Linked DNA regions of Homo sapiens. The protein of the gene in region 1 purifies or fractionates together with the protein of each later gene. This does not show direct contact. Each region holds a gene or a part of one and is shown on either strand. Other genes may lie near its edges.

Region 1 (5,332 bases):
CACAACTCATTTGTTTTGCCATGTAAAGTAACATATAGATGTGAGGAATAGGAGGAGGACGTATTTAGGTGGCCATGATTCTGCCTACCACAGAGAGCAAATAAGCCATTTTAGCCGAAGTGGGCTCCCCAGGAAAGTAACGAGAGAGAAAACAGGAAGTGCAGGTTAAAGCCAAATCATGGGAGCTTTGGAGCTAGATTGTCTGGATTTCATTCTGTGGACAAGAGGGAGCCATTGTAAGTTCTTAACCAGGGAAGTGGCTTGTTAGCAGTGTTGAGAAAAATGATCCAATTATAGTGTTCTGGGTAGCTTACAGGGAAAAACAGAAATCTTTCAAGATGCAATCAGAGTAGTGCAGGTATGAAGGAACAAAAGGCTGAAACAAGAGTGAAAAGAAGGGGTGGTGTGAAAAATGTTGTGCAATAAGGACCTGCAGGAGGTGCTGACCGGCTGGACTCAGAAAAAAAAGTGGGAGAGTCTGAAGCTGGTCTGAGTGTTGGGAGTGTCTGACTGGTAGATTAATCTAGACGGCAACTCTGTTTAGAGAAAAATTGGGAGTTTAGGTTTAGTTAGAGAATCCAGCAATAGAAATCCAAATAGAGGCTGGGCACTGTGGCTCATGCCTGTAATTCCAGCACTTTGGGAGGCTGAGGCAGGAGGATTGCTTGAGCCCAGGAATTCAAGACCAGCCTGGGCAATATAGTAAGACCTCATCTCTGCAAAAAAGAAAAAAAAATTTAATTAGCTGGGCATGGTGATACACACCTGTAGACCCAGCTACTCGAGGGACTGAAGCAGGAAGATCATTTGAGCCCAGGAATTGGAGGCTGCAGTTAGCTATGATCAAGCCAGCCTGGGCAACAGAATGAGACCCTGTCTTTAAAAAAAAAAAAAAATTCAAATAGAATCTTATAAACTCTAAGATACCATTGATTGTAAAACTCTCCAGTATTTTATGTATCACTAAGAAAAAAAGGCTGGCAATCAAAATATAACATGTTTTCTTAAAAATACAAATTTTTGGCCGGGCACGGTGGCTCATGCCTGTAATCCCAGCACTTTGGGAGGCCGAAACAGGCAGATCACGAGGTCAGGAGATCGAGACCATCCTGGCTAACACTGTGAAACCCTGTCTCTACTAAAAATACAAAAAAAATTATCCGGGCGTGGTGGCGGGCACCTGTAGTCCCAGCTACTCAGGAGGCTGAGGCAGGAGAATGGCATGAACCCGGGAGGTGGAGCTTGCAGTGAGCCGAGATTGCGCCACTGCACTCCAGCCTGGGTGTGAGTGTGAGACTCTGCCTCAAAAAAAAAAAAAAATACAAATTTTTGGCTGGGCACAGTGGCTCATACCTGTAATTCCAGCACTGTGGTAGGCCAGGCTGGGAGGATTGTTTGAAGACTGGAGTTGGAGACCAGCCTGGACAACATAGTGAGATCCTGTATCTTCAAAAAATAAAAAAAAAATAGCCCGGCATGGTGGTGCACACCTGTAGTCCTAGCTACTTAGGAGACTGATGTGGGAGAATCGCTTGAGCCCAAGAGGTCAAGGCTGCAGTGAGTTGTACTGACATACAACTGAACTCAAGCCTGGCAACAGACTGAGACCGTGTCTCAAAAAATAATAATAATTTTTACTTTATTGAAAGAGCTGTTTTCGACTTCCACATAGGTTTTTTGAAATCTTTTTTACTGAAGTGTAAATGACATACAATAAAGTGCACATATTTCAAGTGTACAGTTTGATAAGTTTTGATATATGCATGTATGTGTGAAACCATCACCACAATCAAGGTAGTAAACATATGCAACATCCCCAAAAGGTTCCCCATGCCCCTATGTCATTCCTCTCATCAGCCCCTCCCACCTCTCTCCCATGCCTAAGCAACTGTGATTTCTTTCTGTCATATAAATTAGTTTATGTGTTCTAAAATTTTAGATAAATGGAATCCTGCAGTATACATTCTTTTTGGTCTTCTTTCTCTCATTATAATTATTTTGAGGTTCATCCATGTTTTTGTGTACATCAATAGTTCATTCCCTTTTATTGCTGAGAAGTATTCCATTATGTGGATATACGACAATTTGTTTATTTTTATTTATTTATTTAGGGACAGGGTCTTATTCTGTTGCCCAGGCTGGAGTGCAGTGGTGCAATCATAGCTCACTGCATCCTCGACCTCCTGGCTGAAGCAATTCTCCCACCCCAACCTCCCGAATAACTGGGACTACAGGCATGTGCCACCATGCCCAGCTAATTTTTAAAAAAAAAAATTGTAGAAACGGGGTCTCACTGTGTTGCCCAGGCTGGTCTCAAATTCCTGGGCTCAAGAAATCCTCCTGCCTCAGCCTCCCAAAACATTGGGACTACAGGCGTGAGCCACTGCACCTGGTCACAATTTGTTTTTTATTCATTTACTATCATTCACATTGTTTTCAATTTTTGGCAATTACAAATAAATGTGCTATGAATATACATGGATTTTTAAAATCATATATCTCTCCTGTGCATACATTAAAAGGGGAAATGTAAGTGAAATGCATTCATTAGTTGATATTCTTAAAACTTCTTCACACTCAGAGTCCAACATTTTAGATCACTATTTTACTTATCCATATCTGGTTCTTTTCCACATAATAATTTCCTCTGTGCCATCGAGTGGTAATTTAAAAAATCTGTAAAAAAACAAAACTAAAACTAAAAGCCATTGAACTGGGCACTTAAACTCACTCTGTAATTATGTGGAACTGTCCTAATCTGGGCCTCTCTTCAGGAGTGCTGCTAAACATACCTGCATTGTCACCTCCCCACGATTGTCTGCTTTCTAAATTTTAAAAGAGTATTCCACAGTTGTCCCTGGGATTTCCTTCCAAGACCTTTACATCCACTCTGCTAGTTTTGAAGTTGGTGCTTTTGATATTTAGGTATATACAAGCAATGACAAGTACATTTTTACTGCTGCTGGGACAACAGTAATTGTAGGACACCATGAATTCTAAGACACATCTCAATTTCAGAATGTTAAATGTGGCAAAGTATGCATTTTAGAATCCATTAAGTAGGGTGCTTCAACCAATTCATTTGATGGATAAGGGCCTGGAAGATGCCATCCTTGTCCTGTGTGATGCAGTAAGTTAGTGGTAGCTGGCACCAGAACAAAGTGTATAGGATCCAATTGGTTTCTCTGACTTTAGTAGAATTTTTGTTTGTTTATTTACTAGAATATAGTCATTAAAGATTTAAAAAAAAAAAAGGAGGGCTGGGAGACCTCATCTCTACAAAAAAAAATTAAAAATTAGCTAGGCATCGTGGCACATGCCTGTAGTCCCGGGCTTCGTGTTGCACACTTGTAATCCCAGCTACTCCAGAGGTTGAGGTGGGAGGATCACTTGAGCCCAGGAGCTGGAGGTTGCAGTGAGCCGAGATGGTACCACTGCATTCCAGCCTGGGCAACAGAGGGAGACCCTATCTCTAAATTAATAAATAAGAAGCTGAGCTAATGGAAAAGAGCGTTGCATTGCATGTGAAAGGGGTATCGACACAGAAACCACAAACCTGAACATTGTGAGCCGTTGAATTCACAAAGGAAAGGGAACACTATTCCAATAGCCCTTAAGAGGCCCACCTGCAGCCAGTCTCGTTCCATGCCAACTCATTCTTCATTCTTATGATTTGAACTCATAAAAAAAGATTGGCGTGCTCAGATCACTCCCCTACTTTAAGAAGCTGTGGTGGCTTGCCATTCCCAACAGAATAAAGTTCAGGTCCCTTAGCAAGGCGCAGAAGGAAGGCCCTTCACAGATGTCCCACCCTCGTCTTTAGTTCTTTCCTCTCCCTTCCTCCATGAATCCCCCTCTGTAGCCATGCCGCCTGCTCTACCAGCATATCATTTACTGTCTTATCCTGTACCCCTTTGTGCTGTTCCCTTTTCCTAGAATGACACTTGCCCATTCATGTCCACCTTATGACCTCCTCCTTCAATGTTCAAACACAGCCTCTTTTTCACAGTTTCCCCTCAAACTTCCCCCACTTACTCAGTGATTATTTCCCCATGTGTTTTCAAACCTACTTTTTACATTATGTCTAATACTTACGGCATTATTGCTGTTTGTGTGAGAGTCTCACTAAGCTGTGATCTTGGGGAGAGGGGGCATTTTGATAAATATAATTTTTTTTTTGAGAGAGTCTCACTCTGTCACCCAGGCTGGAGTGCAGTGATGCCATCTCAGCACTGCAACCTCTGCCTCCCGGGTTCAAGCAATTCTCCTGCCTCAGCCTCCCGACTAGCTGGGACTACAGGCACATGCCACCACACCCAGCTAATTTTTGTATTTTTAGTAGAGATGGGGTTTCACCATATTGGTCAGGCTGGTCTCAAACTCCTGACCTCAGGTGATCCACCTGCCTTGGCCTTCCAAAGTGCTGGGATTACAGGCGTGAGCCAACGTTCCTGGCCTCCTCATGTGTTTTTAAACCTACTTTATACGTTACGTCTAATACTTATGACATTATTGCTATTTGTGTGCCTGTCTCACTAAGCTGTGATCTTCTTGGGGAAAGGTGGCATATCTTGTTTATCTTTGTATTTCTGTTTGCTAGAACTATGCCTGGCAAATAGTAGGTATATAACAAATATTTATTGGCCTGAAAGATGTGATTGGTGGTAATACCTCCTAAGGAGAAACACAGTCAGTGAAGTACATTACTGTTTCCTGAATGAGTATTATCTTTCTAAGGAAGATCTGTAGAATCCTCTGCAAGGAGAAAGGGATTGAGTAAAAATTGCATTTTGGGTGAATATTTAGAAGTGAGGTGGTATAAAAAATAAGGGTCGAGAGAAGAACGGTCTGAGGGTATAAAGAATGAATACGTAGAACAAAAAGGAAATGGGACTAGAAATAGAATGGAAAACAAAGCAAGGAGAAAAATAGAGAGAGTGATCATGTGGCCAGGATTTTAGAATCGCACTTAGTTTAATTGCAGGGGAGTTACTGGACAATGCTTTCTCACATAGACGTTCCAAACTCTCGTTCCTGAATGAATCCCATTTTGTATTCTTCACATCACTCTCTCCCTGAAAAGACACAAGTATGCTTCTTACAACTGCCTTACAATTAGTGCATTGTTCTCCCCTGTTTTTCTATGGAGAGCCAGGGAAGGCAGAGTAGTATAAGGGAAAAGCACCCACTATGCTGGGAATCAGAAGGCGGGGCTCACGCATCCCAGCTCTGTGACCTCGAGCAAGGCACTAGGCCACTTTCACCTCAGAATTGTCATCTATAAAATGGGAATGATAATATCGTCACGGGCTTCCTCACAGGATTGTTGTAA
Region 2 (3,500 bases), on another chromosome or scaffold:
GAGCTTGTGCAGGGGAACTCCCCCTTATAATGGGTGGGGACACAGGCGAACCATATCAGACCCCAACTAAATTCCAAGTTTCCAGAGTTAGTAGACATGAGAGTTTTCAGGTACATGGGTACAAGAGAGTTTTTTCTGCTGTAACCCATGACTGATATTTCAAAAATTATTCCATGAATGAAAAAAAAACTACATGAAATTATGTTTTTTGAAGATTTTCTCTGTGAAAACTATTCAAGAAAATTGAGTATAGAATGCTCCTTAAAACCATTGTTTTGAATTTTCTTCAATGTAATTGTCTCGCTTCTAATTATACAAAATAATATCTTGAAGACAATGAAGCAATATATGACACATAACCCATTATATTCCCGATTAACAAGTAATATGGTTGTTAGGTCATGCAGCAGGAAAAAGACTATTTGGGTATAAATCTCAGCCCCAACAGGTATTGATTATTTTACTTTTATCAAATTATTTAAACTTATAATGACTTAAGTTTCCACATGTAGAAAACAGAAAAAACTATTACCTATTTTATGTGGTTGCTATGAAGATTAAATAATTAATGTACATAGAGTAAGTTGTTAGCATGTTATATGTTAGCTTTCACTTATTTTATGCTATTCTAATCAAAGGCAGTAAGATGATAACCCATACTATGAACCATAAAACAACATTTTTAAAAATTTTAATTAGTATTGATCTTACCCATCCCAGATTCCCAATGGCGAAGATTGAGAAAAACGCTCCCACGATGGAAAAAAAGCCAGAACTGTTTAACATCATGGAAGTAGATGGAGTCCCTACGTTGATATTATCAAAAGAATGGTGGGAAAAAGTATGTAATTTCCAAGCCAAGCCTGATGATCTTATTCTGGCAACTTACCCAAAGTCAGGTAAGGGTAGCAAAACATAAAAATATTCAATATTTTCACGTGAAATTATTGCATAATCTGTATTGATAAATGAAGCATGATTGGGATTTGGAGAGAAACAATTCCTCATTATGGAGATCTGTTCTTTGGTGCTGCAGGACATTTAGCATTCCTGATCCCTAGGACAACAATTTCCAATAGCACTCTCTGAAGAGAACAGAAAAGATTTCTAAATGCTTTGGTAGTAGGGCAGATAATGCTCCCATTCCAGAACCCATAGCATACATCAAATATAAGGTCAACAAATTGAAAGACCTATGGCTTTTTTAAACATCAACCCTCAAGACAGCCTTCTAAAAGCATGTCCTACTCCAAATATTAATCTATTATCTCAGATATTAAACACAAATTGATTTTCTAATCCTCTAAAGCTCTTGGAGGATGTCAGCCATGAATTTTCTGCTCTGTACCAAATTAGTCTCATTCAGAAAAGCCCAATGACTGACCTTGATTTAAAATGCCTTAGATTTCTAATTCTTCTCTAAAAATTCCTAGACTGGAACACATGCTAGAGTCAATGGGCACACCTAATGCCCAGAACTCACTTTCGATAGGCCATTCTCCATTAAAATGAACCACAGCTATTAGGAGAATTGATGATCCCACTCTTGGGAATAGAATATGCAAGGGGAATGTACTACATCTTCTTTTTGAAGGAGTAAGTGATCAGTATATATTCCCAGAATTGTTTGTTTGTATTAAATGTCTGTAAAAATAAAGCACACATAATAACAAAAAAATTGATGGGGACATGTAGAAGGATACAAGAACCAACGTGAAGGGGCTCTCACAGTAGCCACATTTGGGACAGTTTGAGCATCCAAAAGAATGATCACTAACTGATTGGGAGAACATTAAATAAAAACCTCCTGGTCAGCCATGCCGAAGGGACAAGATTGGATGTGTACTCCAGCCATAATAAAAAAGGAAACTGGATAAAATATATGAAACCACTGGTTTCTGACCTTGGATGACAGTTGTCTCAATCCTCAGACTGAAGATGCTTTCTGAATAGGGTATAGTTATAGGGTGCAAAAGAAAAAGCCATAGCAAACTCATTGAGTTCAAGAGCCAGGTGTAGGAGTTCTGAGAGGTTGAAGTGGCTGCTATTTGCAGGTAAGAGTACCAGACAGAAGGAAACTACACAAATAAATACCTTTAGATATCTTTAGAGAGGACCCTTTTAGTTTATTGTTGAATGGTAGACTGCACTTCCATAGAGCCTATAGCTCCATGAGATCAGGCAAGGAACCACCAGAAAACTATTAGCCATATAATTCCTAGAGATTATACAAGCATGAGAGACTTTTGTGCTCCAATCAGGATAGGATGGACAGAATTTTGGTCCCCATGACATTAGTCCTCTGTTATTACATCTGCCGTTATTTCAGATTACATTCCCAAAAGGATTTTGCAGTTGCTATTAAACTATCTAATCAGCTGATATTAAAATAGGGAGATTATTCTGGACTATCTTGACGGACCCAGTGGAATCATGTGAACAGGAAGTCAGAGAGATGTGGCAGAGGAGAAAGTCTGAGAAATTTAAAGTATAATAAAAGTTCACTGCATGATTATAGATTTAATGATGAAGAGAGAAAGTATCAACAAAACAGTTATCTCAATACTACAGCCACAAGCAACTGAATTCTGTTGGCATCTAGGAGCTTGGCAAAACACCCTGAAGTCCCAGATGAGAATGGCAGCCCTAGCTGATACCTTGATTTTAGCCTAGTGAGACCCTAAACAGAGGACTAGCCATGTTAACCCCAATTTCTAATCTACAGAAACTATGACCGAATATTCAGGTGTTGTTTTAACTCATGAAGCTTGTGGTAATTTGTTAACCACAAAGTCTTCAACCTAGAATTCCATATACCCAGTAAAAATAATATATTAAAATATTACTAAAAATAAAGGTCAAAGACTTTTTCTCTGACAGCGAAAAGCTGAATGTGTTGCCCGCACAGCTGCACTAAAAATAAATAAATAAAAAGTTATATTAAAGAAATTTATTCAGAGTAACAGAAAATAATAGTATACAAAACTTTATTATCTTTCAACATTCCAGCAACACACAGTTGGAATATGACATTTTAAAAATACCATTGATAAAATAAATAGCACCTGAAAACATGAAATATTCAGAAATGAACTTAACAAAGCTGTGCATGATTTGAAAGTGAAAACACTACGGAGAGAAATTGTATAAGACTTAAATAAATAAGGAGGCATACCCTATCTACGGATCAAAAGGATCAATATTTTTAAGATATCAACTGTTTCAAAATTAATGTATAAATTCAATCTCAATCACAAACTGACAAATTGATTCCAAGATTTCTATGAAAATGTCATTAAAAGCAAATATTTTTGATAGAGTAAAGTGGCAGGGTTTATATTAACTGATTTCATGACATTTAACTCAGCTTCAACATTCAAAAGACTGTGATACTGTTGATATTGTTGATAGACATAAATACTTGACCCTTACTTGGTGCCAGATGCAAAAAAGTCAAAGTGCAATGCATCAGACCTCAAAAAATTAAAATTAAATCTCTA

What was found.
Region 2: the proteins of TMOD2 (region 1) and SULT1C3 fractionate together in Homo sapiens (co-fractionation; one large-scale study listed by BioGRID). This does not show direct contact.

Annotation. Positions count from the first base shown.
Region 1 is NC_000015.10:51,760,844-51,766,175, forward strand, and holds part of TMOD2 (tropomodulin-2), read left to right. Parts: intron 1-5,332. UniProt on the Homo sapiens protein: Blocks the elongation and depolymerization of the actin filaments at the pointed end. The Tmod/TM complex contributes to the formation of the short actin protofilament, which in turn defines the geometry of the membrane skeleton.
Region 2 is NC_000002.12:108,246,468-108,249,967, forward strand, and holds part of SULT1C3 (sulfotransferase 1C3), read left to right. Parts: intron 1-720; 5' UTR 721-727; coding exon 728-899; intron 900-3,500.